Homo sapiens: one gene and its partners. The protein of the gene in region 3 interacts with the protein of the main gene of each other region in a pairwise test. Each region holds a gene or a part of one and is shown on either strand. Other genes may lie near its edges.

Region 1 (3,500 bases), on a different chromosome or scaffold from region 3:
GGCTCAAATGCTCCCTCTCCGTGATGAGCCTCCCACCAGGGCACCAGCCATCCCCAGCCAGGCTCTTGGCTGCCAAGGTGAAATCCTCCCCAATTTCTGCCCCTTGCTCCACCCTGGCTATTTTGTTCTGCTGCTCCCCTGCTCAATGCCAGGTGAGTAGCTGGAGGACAAATGCCAGGGCTACTGCGTCGTTATTTATTGGCAGGGGCACAGCCAGCAACTGATAATCATGGTTCAAGAAAAGAAGGGGAGGGCACAGAGCAGACCAGTCAGGAAGAGGCAGACCCTAGCTCCCGGCCTCTCTGGAAAGCCTGGGGGTCCACAGGAAACCTGCCAAACTGCCTCCTTGCCCTGTGGGGGCAGCAACTGTCCCTGTCCTGTCGGCGCTGCTGCATCCTGACCACCCCTCGGCACAGTAAACACACGGCTTGGCGGGGCTTTCCCACATGGGCAGGAAGGAGCTAAGACCCTCAGCTTACTTGGTGCTGCTACAGTCAACCTCGGCCACCTTCACTGTGGGCAGCGTCTGCGAAGCCACCGGCTCAATGGTGAGCGTGTTGTCCTCCACGGCGGCCCGTACCAGCACCGAGAGCTGTGGCAGACCAGGGAGGCAGGCAGGGTGGTAAGGGGCTGGGCCCTGGCGGAGGGGTGTGTCCCCCAGCTGGCCCCGCCCCTGCCATGCCTCACCTCCTGCATTGTGAAGTCCAGGCAGGGGCCCACGTCCTCTCGGTACACCCTTTCCAGGAAGGGGCAGGTCTTGTCCAGGGTGGGGGATTCCCTCCAGGCCTGGAACTCTGCAAACAGGATTGTGTCCACCTGTGGGGGAGGGCAAGCGAGGGTGGGGGCGGTCAGGGTACTGGGGCCAGCATAGAAGATGCAGGCTGAGCTGAAGGGGAGCGAGGGAGGACGTGGGGCAGGCCCAGCAAGCCAGCAGGTCGATCCCCAGCAGCCGTGCAGGGAAGCCAAGTCCAGCAGCAGCAGAGCTCCCTTCTGCCCTTTGCACCAAAGAATTTAGAACTAAAAGTTTTGTTTCCAGGCCGGTGTTAAATTTCTTGGCGCTACTGGATTTTAGAGTGGGGTGCAGGGCTTTGTCCTGAAGACCCTCAGTGCCTCCTTGAGGAGGAAAAGTCAAAGAGCAACTAGCAGGAGGCCACAGGTACCAGCAGGTACACAAGCACACACAAGCACGTGCACACAGGAGGGGACACACACAGGCTGCCCTGGGCCCACACCTCAGAGGTGACTGCTGGCCTGCTCCAGGCCACATGCAGAATGAGGGAGGCTGGGAGGGGGCAAAGTGGGAGGCCCCTCTTTGGAGCCATTTACCTGTCGGGAAAAGGAGGGAGAGGGAGTGGAGGCAGGGGCTGGGGGCTCCCCAGGTGGGAGCGGCCAGGCCGGCTCGTAGGTGAGGTGAACCGCCTTGCTGGGGACCACGCAGAGGAGCAGGGAGAGCAGCGGGGCCAGCCCGGGCTGGGCCGGATGGACAGACAGACAGACAGACAGACAGGTAGACAGGTGCACAGAGACAGAACAGGAGGAAGGGGAGAAGTTAATGTACATTCAGAAGCTCAGAGCTCAGGAGGTGGATGAGGGCCTGCTCGTCTTCCCTGGAGGCCCTGGAGACAGAGGTGGAAGCCAGGATGGAGTCGAGTGGGCTGGCGCCAGGGACCCAGGAAGCTGAAGGCACCACAGCCCTCTGAGGCACTACCTGGGTGCAGCCTTGAACTCAGCTCTTGATGTCCCTGTCTCTGGTTCCTCCAGCAGCCCCGGGAGGCCCCATTTATCAGGTGAGAAAGCTGAGGTGCTGACAGGTGGCCTCATTTGCCTACAGACCCATGACCATGAGTGTCAGCCCAGCCTGGGCCCAGCAACTGGTGTGGCCAGCTGAGGTGGGACGGAGACACCTCTCCAAAGGCCACGCTTGTCTCAGCCCCACAGTCAGAGGGTGCCAGAAACCCCTTGAGCACAGGGCTGTCACCAGGTGGTCCTGGGGCTCGAGGCTGTGGCCACACGGGGTCCAGGCAGCCTCTCCCCTGAGGCCCAGTGGCTGCTGCTTGGCCTCTTAAGGCCAAGGAAGTGTGTGTCTCAGTGGAGGCCCCAGATCCTCAGGGCCAAAGCCAGCCTCAGGTGCAGAGACCACTACCTACTGCTTGGAGTCAGTGGGGCAGGGAGGGGGCCTCAGGTCCCCAGATGGTATACCCTGGAGGCTGCAGGCCAAGTGCCTCAGATCACAGGAGGTTGGAGAGAAAGGACCTGCCCAGCCCTCACATCCCAGAGAGGCGCAGGACAGGCTCCAGGTCACACAGCATGGGGCAGGCTGGTCCTCACTGGGCTCGGACCCTGCCTACCGCAGGCACTGCCACCCTTCCCCGTGCCCAGAGCCCGCTTCCCACCCTCACCTCCTTGCCCTCTCTGTCTGGGGTGAGGGTGTGTCCCGCAGCGGGACACACGGCGGGGCAGAGGGTGCTGCTGGTGCTCTTGTGGCGAGAGTGGCCCTTTCGGGGCCCGGCCTTGGTGGGGCTCAGCAGCTGGGGGTGAAGCTCGCGGTTGGGAGAGGCTGGTGTGGACGTGATGACCAGCGTCTTCAAGGCTGTCACCTCTGCCTGCAGCATGTCGATCTGCATGGGATGGGATGGCTGTCAACCCTCACCCAGACTGGATGCCATCCTGGCTGCCACCGCCTATCAGCCTAACTCAGGACAATGCACCCCTGCAGTGACAGGCACTTAGTCCCACCCGACGCCCTCAGAACAGCCTTCGAGGCAGAGACCCAGACACTCGTTTTACACATAGGGAAACTGAGGCTCACAGAGGCGACATGGCCTGCCCAAGGTCACTCTGTGAGCAGGATTCTGTTAGGAACAAGTGTCTGGGAGCTGGCTGGGCCTCCCATGAGAGTTCTGGGACCGCCCCCAGGAGCCAGGAAAGGCCCAGGCCTCACATTTTGCAGATGGGCAACCAGGCTTGGAGAGAGGAAGCGACTTGCCCAGGCTCAGACAGCCATACTGAGTGAGGTTTCTGCTTTGTAAAGTGGGGCTGGGAGGAGAGGGAAGAAGGTACAATAATCACAGGGTCCTCCCAGCCCCAGCACTATCCCAGAAAAGGCTCTGCCATGCAGCAGAATCACTGATGGAGCCCCGGGACACTGGGCCCTGTGATCTCAGACCCCCACCCTTCCCTTCCCTCCCTGGGCCTAGGTTCACCCATTCCTGCTGGCCCCACCGGGCCAGGTGAGCGTCCACTCGGGCAGCAAAGCTCAGTGCTCGCTGAGCCGGGAGGCAGGGGGGGTGCCTGGGCTGGCCTGGGCAGGCGGGGATGGGCCTCACCTTGCCCCGAGCCTCCTTCAGCTGCTTTTCTGATGCCGCCTGCTTCATGTTGGCTTCTCGAACCATCTTGTGAGCTTCCTAGGAAGAAGGCAGTCCCTGCGTGAGTGGTGAGGAGCCAACGGACGCCCAGATGACCCATTCCCCAAGTTGTTCCCGCGCCCAGCCGGTGTACCT
Region 2 (3,150 bases), on a different chromosome or scaffold from region 3:
TACCTGCTTCACGTTGGCCGGCGGCTACTCTGGAATGTTTTTCCCTCCCCAGAATCAAGCTTTTGCTTGATCCAGAAGAGCCCATATCACTAAGATGGCATATATGTGATCTGGGCATTTTCCTCCTCTGCCTACAGCCAGGTTTAGCGGCAAACCTTTCCCCCTTAGCACCTTCAGGGCTGAGTTCTGGGTTTCTAGAGGTCAGGACGGCTCCTCAGAGCGCCAGGAAGCCAGAGCCCCAAGCAGGACGAAAAAGAGGCATACACACAGCAGTGTGAATAGCCTGGCCACCAGCCATCCTCCCTCCACCTCAAGACCCCCATTTGTCCCAGACTAAAGGATCCAGAGAGCAGCTCCCTTTCTCAGGAGCTTGGGCAGTGCCCCAGGGAGTCCAGGGTTTCTCTGCAGATGTGCGGAGCGGGAGGCGGTGGTAGAGAGAGATAAAAGGTGGAGTTTCTCTGTTGTTTGGTTCAGGGATTTTATTTTTAATTTTATGAGACAGGGTCTTGCTCTGTCCCCCAGGCTGGAGTGCAGTGGCATGATCATAGCTCACTGCAGCCTCATACTCCTGGGCTCAAGCAATCCTCCTGCCTCAGCCTTCCAACTAGCTGGGACTACAGGTGCGCGCCACCGTGCCTGGCTAACTTTTCATTTTTTTTGTAGGGACGGGGTCTCGTTTTGTTGCCAAAGCTGGTCTCAAACTTGTGGCCTCAAGCAATCCACCTGCCTTGGCCTCCCAAAGTGCTGAGATTGCAGATGTGAGCCACCGTGCCTGGCCAGATTTTTCTTTTATTCTTCTTTCTTTTTCTTTTTTGCTTTCTTGTCTTTTCAGAAGCAAGCCAGACCTAGCAGGCTGTTCCATGTTCTATTTTTGACTGTAGCCACAGCTGCTGTTCTCAGGACAGCATCCCTTCCCACATGCCTGCGCCTGCTGCCTGCTGAGATGAGGAGGGGAGCGTCTGGGAACTTGCGAGTCCAAGGCCAGTCCCCATTTCTGCCTCGCTCACCGCTGGCCCTTAGAGACCCCGAGGTAGGGGTGGGGAGATGCTTCTCTCCTTGCCCCCCGCCCTCATGGGTCCTAGCCCTTCCCTGAGTGCGGGCTGAGGCCAGAGTCACCTTTTCTGTGGCTGGCTCTACCTTCCTGTCCCTGAGGTTAAACGGTGCCCATCCTGCCATCCTCAAACGACAGAGGAGCTTTTCTGGAATTTCAAACCATTGCTCTTAGTCCCAAGCTAGGCTTAAACCTGGAATCTACAAGCCAAAAGTCCCTCCCTGCCTGAGGGCAGTACCCTCCATTGGGCACAGTCCAGACCCAAGTCAAAGATGCCCCATTCCTTGCGCCTCAGCCCTCAGTTCCTTCATTTCCACCAGGCCGTGCCTTGTTTGAGTTTTTCCTCCCAGTGAGACTGCCCCACGGAGACAGAGGAAAGGGCTGGCTCCCCCTCCCCAGGCTGGAGACCCCCCCCCAACTCCAGGAAAGAGCAGTCAGAGTCCAGTGCTCTGCCTCAGACGTTGCCTGAGAAGAAGTGGCTGCCACACCCAGGGGAAGGCCCTGAGGCGGAGGCTGTGCTCCGCCATGGTGTCCCGGTACCTTCCATACACAGAGGAGTGCAGCCTTCTCCATATCTCCATGGCCCTGTCCCAGGCCGGCCCAGATGTGTCCCCCCCAGGCCTTGTCCTACGTCCAAGGTGGCAGATGTCTTCCCTGGGCTGCCACCAGCCCCCGCCCCAGAGTGGCCCACCGTGGCACTAGAATGCAAGTATCCTGCGACCTTGCAACCTCACCTTCCTGTGGGTGTTCTTTCCTGCCCTGTCCAAAAGCGCCCTCACTATTCTTGGACCATGCCAGATTCTGCCTCTCTGGAAAGAGGCTCTGGACAGCAGAAGCCTCCAAGCACAGAGCCTGGCCCCAGGCCCCAGACAGGGTGGGCTTCCTGCCCTTCCCTCTGGGCACGCCTGCTGGCCGACCCACTGACCCACTCGGATGGACCAACCTGCTCTGTCCCCAAAGGACGCCTGCAGGAGAGAGCAGCACTCCGCATCACCTCACCAAGGATCGGACTCTGCCCCTGGACCTGGGAACGACTGGACTGTCACGGGGTTCCCTCCTAGCTCTCCCAGTGAACTCCTGCCAGGCACACACAGCCCCTATAGCACTGAGCTCACATGGGACTGGGATATGGGGGCATCTCTTCCCCAGAGAGGCACTCAGTGAGCCTCCTGTGCCTGGCCCCAGCCTGGGCCATCTCTTAGGTGAGACAGTTGCCCGAAACTAAGCCAGGCCTGGCTGGAGGAGCAGCAGCTTGGGGAGAGGGATTTCCCTGCAGACCTCAAGCCATCATGCGGTGGGTGCTGCCATGACAGAGGCTGCACCCCTGGGCCAGCGGGGCTGCTCACCCACCTCTTGTGCAAGGTGGCCTTTGTGCTGCGCCTGCAGGCAGAGCTGGAGCCCCCAGCAGAGGCAGGCTGGGACGGACCAGCATCTGGAAGATGTACATAGTTATTTTTCTCTTTGTGGTTTCTTGTTTGGTTTGGTTTGCTTTTGACAGCTTCATTTTATTTTTGACGTCACTTTTTGGCCATGTAAACTATTTGTGGCAATTTTATGTTTTTATTTATGAATAAAGAATGCCATTTCTCACGCCCTCTAGAGCCACGTGTATCTGCCCTCCTCTCCCCTCGCTGCGGTGTGGCAGCTCCCTGGGACTTCTCCCCTTGGAACAGGAAAGATGACGTCCCTTCCACCAGCGAAGGGGGTGAGGAAGGCAGCACAGGGCAGTGGGAAAGGGGCCCCCGGGGTCAGACAGGCTTCAGCTGGCCCCTGCCCCCATCGCCTACCCCGGGACCTTATCTGTGAAATGAGAGGAAAAGGGACCCAGGGACAGGTGTCCATGTAGAGTCAGAGCGTCCTCTCCAAAAGAGAGCCCCTCCCCACCCAAACTGCATGCCCTACCGTCTGCTCACCTCACCAGCCAACTCCTGGGTCTACTGCATATGGCCTCCTGGCAAAAGACCAGCATGGCTACAATTGCCACTGCCCCAGGGCCCCCTGGTGGGGCAGGTGCAGTCACCATCATGGCCATCTGTCCAGCCTTCTTGGTTCCAGCCTACCTGGTGCCCCCTTGACAACCTTCCCTACCATCCCGGGCC
Region 3 (3,500 bases):
GTGAATGGAATTCCTGGAGCTACCTCCAGAGCCCACGTGCCCTGGCTCCTCACTGCAGTCAGCGCTCCCTGTTTTGGTGTGAATGGAATTCCTCGCGCTCCCTCCGGAGCCCACGTGCCCTGGCTCCTCACTGCAGTCAGCGCTCCCTGTTTTGGTGTGAATGGAATTCCTTGTGCTCCCTCCGGAGCCCACGTGCCCTGGCTCCTCACTGCAGTCAGCGCTCCCTGTTTTGGTGTGAATGGAATTCCTTGTGCTCCCTCCGGAGCCCACGTGCCCTGGCTGCTCACTGCAGTCAGCGCTCCCTGTTTTGGTGTGAATGGAATTCTGTGGCACCTGTGCTTCTGTCTGGCGTCTTCAGACCTACACTGTGTTTCACTTGATAATGCCAGATTCTTCTCCAAAGCATCCATCCACATCGTGCGAGGTAGCCGTGGTGCTGCATGCGCGCCAACACTTACGTGGTCAGCGGCTCCTTCTGTTCCCTCTAGTGGACACGTAGCACATCCTATTTTGGTTTAATTTGCAAATTCATGAGATTCGTGGGATTGAACATCTCTTCCTGTGTGCATTGGCGTATGATTGGCTAGGGCTGCCGTAACTCAACACCACAGCCTGAGTGGCTTAAACAACGGTTTTATTTTCTCACTTCTGGAGTCTGGATGTCAGAGATCAGGTTGCCGGCAGGGTGGGTTCCTCCTGAGGCCTCTCTGTGGCTTGCAGACGGCACCCTCTCCCCTGCGTGCTCATGTGGACTCTCCCCCTGCGTGCTCACGTGACTCCTCCCCCGCTGCATGCTCACTCCTGGTGTCTCTTCCTCTTTTTTTTTTTTTTTTTTGGGACAGAGTCTTGCTCTGTTGCCCAGGGTGGAGTGCAGTGGCATGATTTTGGCTCATTGCAGCCTCTGCCTCCCAAGTTCAAGCGATTCTCCTGCCTCAGCCTCCTGAGTAGCTGGGATTACAGGTGCATGCCACCACGCCCGGCTAATTTTTGTATTTTTAGTAGAGATGAGGTTTCACCACGTTGGTCAGGCTGGTCCCGAACTCCTGACCTCGTGATCTGCCTACCTGAGCCTCCCAAAGTGCTGGGATGACAGGCGTGAGACACCGCGCCCGACTCTTCCTCTTCTTGTAAGGACAACAGTCCAGGGCCCCAGCCTTAGGACCTCATGTAACCTTAGCTGCCTCCTCAGAGGCGCTGTCTCCAAATACAGTCATGTTCGGGGTGAGAGCTTCAACCCGTAAATTTTGGGGGGCAGAGCTCAGTCCATAGAATTGGCCTTTCGACAGCCCCTCTTTTGGAGCTCCAGGCCATGTCTTTTGCCCATTGTTTATTGGATCATCTGCCCTTTGTCATAGATTTTTTTAGGGTATTTTATGCTGAATATGAGCCTAGCGTTGGTTATATGTGTTGCAAATATCTTCTCCCAGTCTATGGCTTGCCTTTTATTCCTTCACTGGTGTCTTTGGTGAATGGAAGGTCTTAATTTCAAGACAAACTCATAGGCTAATCTATTCCATTGTGGTTAGTCCAACATCAAAAGGTTCATTCTAGCATTCTAGCTTTCTTTTTCATTATTCTAACTTCCTTTCCCAATAATGAGAAACCTGGCTCGCCCATTATCACTAACACAGTTACTTTGATCGAGTCCTCTTGGTGTAACCAATCCCCCATTGCTGCTGTGGCCCCTTCCCCTATTTGCAGGCCCCTCTCCTGCCTGGATGCCTCCCCAGCATCACCGAGCTTGACAGCCCAGCCTGGCTGCCTTCCACACAGATGCCTTCACCCTGCTGGAGCCACAGCCCCCCTTAGTGTAGGGGAGGCAGGCCCCATCTGCAGGCCTAAGGCAGGAAAAGAAAGGGAGGGGCCAGACAGGACACTCCACTGGCACAGATTGTCTCAAATAGGGGAGGTTTTTGCCGGGCGCAGTGGCTCACGCCTGTAATCCCAGCACTTTGGGAGGCCGAGGTGGGTGGATCACCTGAGGTCGGGAGTTTGAGACCAGCCTGGCCAACATGGTGAAACCCCGTCTCTACTAAAAATACAAAAAAATTAGCTGGGCGTGGTGGCAGGCACCTGTAATCCCAGCCACTTGGGAGGCTGAGGCAGGAGAATCACTTGAACCCAGGAGGCGGAGGTTGCAGTGAGCCGAGATTGCACCACTACACTCCAGCCTAGGTAACAGAGCGAGACTCCATCTCAAAAAAAATAAAGTAAAATAAAATAAGGGAGGTTTTATTTTTCTTTTCCAATGCTGATATTGTTTACTTCTTCTTGCATTATCGCCCCTAGCTAAACTCTCCGGTATGATGTTGATAATAGCTGTCTTTCTCCCTAATCCCAGAGGAAGAACTTTCAGCATTTCACTTTTTTAGGTTGAGTTTTTGCTGAAGGTTTTTTGTGGTGGGGGTAGTGGAGGGAGGTTAAGGAAGTTTCTTTCTATTCCTGTTTTAATATAGATCTTTATTTTTTAAATCACGATTCTTTGTTTTTGTTTCATATATTTTGTATCTTTGTTGTTAGATGTGTATACATTTAGGGTTTTTTTTTTTTAGGATAATTGACCCTTATATTGTTACGTAATCTTCCTCTTTGTCTGGCAACATTCTTTGTTCTGAAGTCTACCTTGTCTGATATTAATTAATCCACTCGGGCTTTCTTTTGATTAGCATTCGCGTGGTATAACTTTTTCATCCCTTTTTCTTTTTACCTACCTCTCTCTTTTATATTTGAAATGAATTTCTTGTTTTTTGAGACGGAGTCTCTGTTGCCCAGGCTGGAGTGCAGTGGCACAATCTCGGCTCACTGCAACCTCTGCCTCCTGGGTTCGAGCGATTCTCATGCCTCAGCCTCCAAAGTAGCTAGGGTTACAGGCATGTGCCACCATGCCCAGCTGGTGGCGTTTGTATTGTTAGTAGAGACAGGGTTTCACCATGTTGGCCAGGCTGGTCTCGAACTTCTGGCCTCAGGTGATCCACTTGCGCTGGCCTCCCAAAGTGCTGGAATTACAGGCGTGAGCCACTGCGCCCGGCCTAAAGACAAAAACTGTTGAAAGCACACAGAGAGAGCGATGCACAGCCCACAGGGGACAGTGACTGGAGCGGTAGTGGGTTCTCAGCAGCAGCTGTCATCAGATTTCTCCTCAGAAGGAAGTGGCATAATATTTTTCAAGTACTGAAAGCAAAAAACTGTCAACCCATAATTATACATTCAGTAAAAATATTCTTCAGGAATGAGAGTGAATAAAGACATTCTCAGATGAAGGAAAAGTTTGTCACCAGCAGACTGGATCTAAAAGAACTGATAAAGGAGGTACTTTAGACACAACAGAAGGAAGGAAACTAGGAATGTCAGGAGTGAAGGAAAACTAATGGCAAGGATGAATATGATAGACATTCTTTCACACTTAACTCTTAAAATTACGTTGACAGGCCGGGCGCCGTGGCTCATGCCTGTCATCCCAGCACTTTGGGAGGCCAAGGCAGGTGGATCACCTGAGGTCA
Region 4 (4,136 bases), on a different chromosome or scaffold from region 3:
TTGCACCCAAGCGCTTCCTCTATGCTCTTAGCCATGATGCTCTGCTGCCTCAAAAGAACGGCCAGCTAGTGTTAGTAATAATAACATTTACCGATGTCATCGTTTGGGGTTTCATGTAGTCCTTGCAACAAACCTATGAGCTGGGCCCGTGATTCCAGTTTTGCAGAGTGGGGAGTTGGTCACAGAGCTAGTGAGACCAGGCCTCCAGCCCAGTTGGTCCGTCTCCAGGGCCTCAGCTCAGCACCACATCCCTGTACTGCAAGCCTCAGTGGTCAGCACCAGGCGTCCCATGGGGACTTAAGATTCCAAGGCTTTTGAGCACTGCTAGAAGTTTGGGGTAAGATCTTTTACTTTTTTTATATTAAAAAAATATATTTTTTTGAGATGGAGTCTCACTCTTTCGCCCAGGCTGGAGTACACTGGTGTGGCCTCGGCTCACTGCAACCTCCACCTCCCGGGTTCAAGAGAACCCGGAGAGGGAGAGCCTCAGCCTCCCGAGTAGCTGGGATTACAGGTGCCCACCACCATGCCCGGCTAATTTTTGTATTTTTAGTAGAGATAGAGTTTCAATCCAGGTGGGAGATGGGGTTTCACCATGTTGGCCAGGCTGGTCTCCAACTCCTGACCTCAGGCAATCCGCCCACCTCGGCCTCCCAAAGTGCTGGAATTACAGCCACTGCCCGGCCTGGGGTAAGCTTTCAATGTTGTAACTCCCTCCAGAACCTCATGGCCTATGAAGATGGCCAGGTGGGCCTGGGCCCAGGCTCTGAATGGCCTGCTGCCTCTCTCCTGGACACAGCATTCAACTTCCTGGCTGGGGCTGGGAGTGCAAAGATTTGTTTATTTGTTTCTTTTTTATTGAGACAGAGTCTCACTCTGTCGCCCTGGCTGGAGTGCAGTGGTGCAATCTGGGGTCGATGCAGCCTCTGCCTCCCGGGTTCAAGTGATTCTCGTGCCTCAGCCTGAGTAGCTGGGATTACAGGCATGCGCCACCAGGCCTGGCTAATCTTTTTTGCATTTTTGGTAGAGATGGGGTTTTGCCATTTTGGCCAGGCTGGTCTTGAACTCTTGACCTCCAGTGATCCACCTGCCTCAGCCCCCCAAAGTGCTGGGATTACAGGTGTGAGCCACCACTCCCAGCCTGGGAGTGCAAGGATTTAAATAAAATCTTGTGAAAGTTCAGTTTGGCTCCTTCAGGGACTCGGCCAGGCCGGGGGGCAGCACAGGAGACAGGCTGACTCCCCTGTACAGATGGATGGGGAAACACAGGCAGAGTAGGGACAGGGGACTTACACCAGGTCACACGGGGAGCCTGTGGATGAGGCAGAGGCAGGACTTGGGCCTGGGTCTCTGCGCTAAATGACTCCTGGGCATCCTGCTGAACTCTCTCCCAGAAGGAGATTGGCCTCACATACCCCACTGACCCCTTCCTAGCATGCTTTTTGCCAGACCCATTGAGACTGGCTGAGGACTGGTTGCCATAGAGATGGCCTGTTAGGCAGTTCTACGGTGCGGATGGGGGATGGGGCAGGATGGGGCAGGACACCGATATGCTAAATACCTACCAACAGTTGGTTAGGACCCCGTCGGTGCGACCAGGGCAGGACGTGCGGCTCCAGGCTCCAGGAACCAGAACGGGGCTGCTCAAGCTGCTGTCGACCGTCTCTCAGGACAAGCAGGTGAGGGAGGCCCAGTGAGGACACTTCCAGCTGCCTAGAGCCAGGTGGGTCAGGGAGGCCTGGGCTGGGGAGGCCCTTGAGAAGCCACAAGACCTGAGCTGAGGTCCAGATGAAACTCAGGGAGGCAGGAGTGGGACAGGGACCACAGGGAGGCCTAAGGGCCTTGGGAGAAGCCGAGGGATGACGCCCAGGAGTGACTCCCAGGGATGATGGGGCCATTCAGGGAACACTGCGGAAGGAGCAGGTTTCAGGAAAGATGAAGACCACCTTGATGAAGACCACCTTGGTTTCTGCCTTGGCTGTAGCAGGTCCAGGGCCCAGTGGGACATTTGGGAGTGCAGTCCAGGGCCCAGAGGTGGCCTAGCGCAATGGTGACAAATCTGGGCTCCACCACTTCCCAGCTGTGTGACCTCAGTTACTCAGCCTCTCTGAGCCTCAGCTTTCTCCTCCACATGATGGAGGTGATAGTGAGTACCGGCCTCCTAGGGTCCTTGGGAAGGTTACGTGTGTTTATGCATGAAAGTCCTGAGCACACAATAGGTGCTCAGCAGGTGGCAGCTGTTGCTATTTTAATATGCAGAACGGAGGTGGTGCTCGGTCGGGTTTTTTTGTTTGTTTGTTTTTTTGAGATGGAGTTTCACTCTTGTTGCCCAGGCTGGAGTGCAATGACACAATCTCGGCTCACTGCAGCCTCCAACTCCTAGGTTCAAGCGATTGTCCTGCCTCAGCCTCCCAAGTAGCTAGGATTACAGGCGCAGGCCACCACACTCGGCTAATTTTTTTTGTATTTTTAGTACAGATGGGGTTTCGCCATGTTGGCCAGGCTGGTCTCGAACTCCTGGCCTCAGGTGATCCGCCCCCCTTGGCCTCCCAAAGTGCTGGGGTTACAGGTGTGAGCACCACATCCAGCCCTGTTTGGTTGGTTTTTATGGTAACGAGGGCCCAGAGGGACCCAGCCAGGCCCAGCCAGGTGCACAGAGGGAGCACCCGGGTGAGGTGCAACACAGTCCAGGAGGCTGCTCAAGCTGGCTGCTCCTCCCCTACTGTCTCTGCCCAGGGCTGCCTGGGGAGTGGTGATGGTGTGCCAAATCAAGACCTGCAGCAGAGGTCTCAGAGCTCAAGGCAGACAGCAAAGAAGGACCGCAAGCCCAGGGGCCAGAGCAAGAAAGGACAGGGCTCTGAAGAGTCTGAAGAGTAAGCAGCAGTGGGATGGGTCAGGAGGCTGTTGGGGGTCAGGGCCCTCTGGGGGCTGGCGCCGACCCTGACCCCCACCCTTTCCTTCTTCAGTCACTTCCCGCTTCTTCCTCGGAAACCCTCCTTCCCCTTCCAGTGGGCCTGGGAGAGCATCGCCACAGATGTCCGGGCTGTGCTTCAGCCAAGCTCCCCAACCCCTGGCCACCAAGCCCTGCCCATGCCCTCCTCGTTCTCCCAGCGTCAGTCCAGGCGCAAGTCCACGGCCAACCTCCCAGAGGCCCATGGCTGCTGCTGGAAGACAGAGGCGCAAAACCTGAAGGCGAGACAGCAGCTGGGAGCCTGGGGCGGTGTCTCCATCCCTACTGGCAAAGGGGAGCTAGGATCAGAGCCCCCCAGTGGTCTCCAGCTGCCTGGGAGGAGGCCAGGATCAGGATCGGCGTCCGACAAGCAGGTCCAGCTGCAAAGCCTGGGTGCTGAGGAGGCCGAGAGGGGTCTGAGTTCTGGGGTGCTGCCCCAGCGCCCCAGGAGGGGGTCGATCTCAGAGGAGGAGCAATTTTCAGAGGCCACAGAGGAGGCTGAGGAGGGAGAGCACAGGACTCCCTGCAGAAGGAGGGCTGGTTGTCAGAGAAAGGGGCAGATTTCTGGAGAGGAAGCCTCCGATGAGGGAGAAGTGCAGGGCCAGAGCCAGGGGAGCAGCCCCAGCTTCAACAACCTCCGAAGGCGACAATGGAGGAAGACAAGGGCCAAGGAGCTGCAGGGGCCATGGGACCTGGAGAAGCTGCACAGGCAGCTACAGAGAGACCTGGACTGTGGTGAGCGTGGGGCTCAGAGCCTGGATTCCCCCGAAGCTACACCGCAGGGAACAGGGAGCAGTCAGGGAGGCAGGGGCTCAGGCAGGCTGGGCTGTGCTCTGGGTGCTGGGGGGCGTTGCCTGGTGGGCTGAGAGGGAGAGGGCAGCCCCTGACTTGGTCCCACTGTGGGCAGGCCCCCAAAAGCTGCCCTGGAAGACTTTGAGGGCTGCCTTCCAGGCCTCCAAGCGGAATGGAAAGGCCTATGCCTCGGGATACGATGAAACTTTCGTGTCTGCCAACCTCCCTAATCGCACCTTCCACAAACGACAGGAAGCCACCAGGTAAGAGGGAAGAGAAGGGAGTGGGAGCCCAGAATGAGAAGTAGAGATGGAGCCACTTCTCCAAGAGATGCTTAGGCATTTGAACTCTCATTCATTTCTTTATTTATCCATTCACCAAACTTTTGGATCAT

Evidence for each region. Proteins that work in one complex are often made in the same cells at the same time.
Region 1: the proteins of CCDC57 (region 3) and RAB3IL1 interact in binary tests that used the Homo sapiens proteins (3 or more experiments, as listed by UniProt).
Region 2: the proteins of CCDC57 (region 3) and LZTS1 interact in binary tests that used the Homo sapiens proteins (3 or more experiments, as listed by UniProt).
Region 4: the proteins of CCDC57 (region 3) and TSGA10IP interact in binary tests that used the Homo sapiens proteins (3 or more experiments, as listed by UniProt).

The regions. Positions count from the first base shown.
Region 1 is NC_000011.10:61,904,067-61,907,566, forward strand, and holds part of RAB3IL1 (guanine nucleotide exchange factor for Rab-3A), read right to left. Parts: coding exon 3,499-3,500; intron 3,405-3,498; coding exon 3,327-3,404; intron 3,037-3,326; coding exon of another isoform or gene 2,942-3,036; intron 2,619-2,941; coding exon 2,400-2,618; intron 817-2,399; coding exon 688-816; intron 593-687; coding exon 480-592; intron 1-479. UniProt on the Homo sapiens protein: Guanine nucleotide exchange factor (GEF) which may activate RAB3A, a GTPase that regulates synaptic vesicle exocytosis. Promotes the exchange of GDP to GTP, converting inactive GDP-bound Rab proteins into their active GTP-bound form.
Region 2 is NC_000008.11:20,245,665-20,248,814, reverse strand, and holds the end of LZTS1 (leucine zipper putative tumor suppressor 1), read left to right. Parts: 3' UTR 1-2,650; downstream 2,651-3,150. UniProt on the Homo sapiens protein: Involved in the regulation of cell growth. May stabilize the active CDC2-cyclin B1 complex and thereby contribute to the regulation of the cell cycle and the prevention of uncontrolled cell proliferation. May act as a tumor suppressor.
Region 3 is NC_000017.11:82,167,843-82,171,342, reverse strand, and holds part of CCDC57 (coiled-coil domain-containing protein 57), read left to right. Parts: intron 1-3,500. UniProt on the Homo sapiens protein: Pleiotropic regulator of centriole duplication, mitosis, and ciliogenesis. Critical interface between centrosome and microtubule-mediated cellular processes. Centriole duplication protein required for recruitment of CEP63, CEP152, and PLK4 to the centrosome.
Region 4 is NC_000011.10:65,944,144-65,948,279, forward strand, and holds the start of TSGA10IP (testis-specific protein 10-interacting protein), read left to right. Parts: upstream 1-1,336; 5' UTR 1,337-1,532; coding exon 1,533-1,679; exon of another isoform or gene 1,680-1,723; intron 1,724-2,736; coding exon 2,737-2,873; intron 2,874-2,966; coding exon 2,967-3,685; intron 3,686-3,857; coding exon 3,858-4,005; intron 4,006-4,136.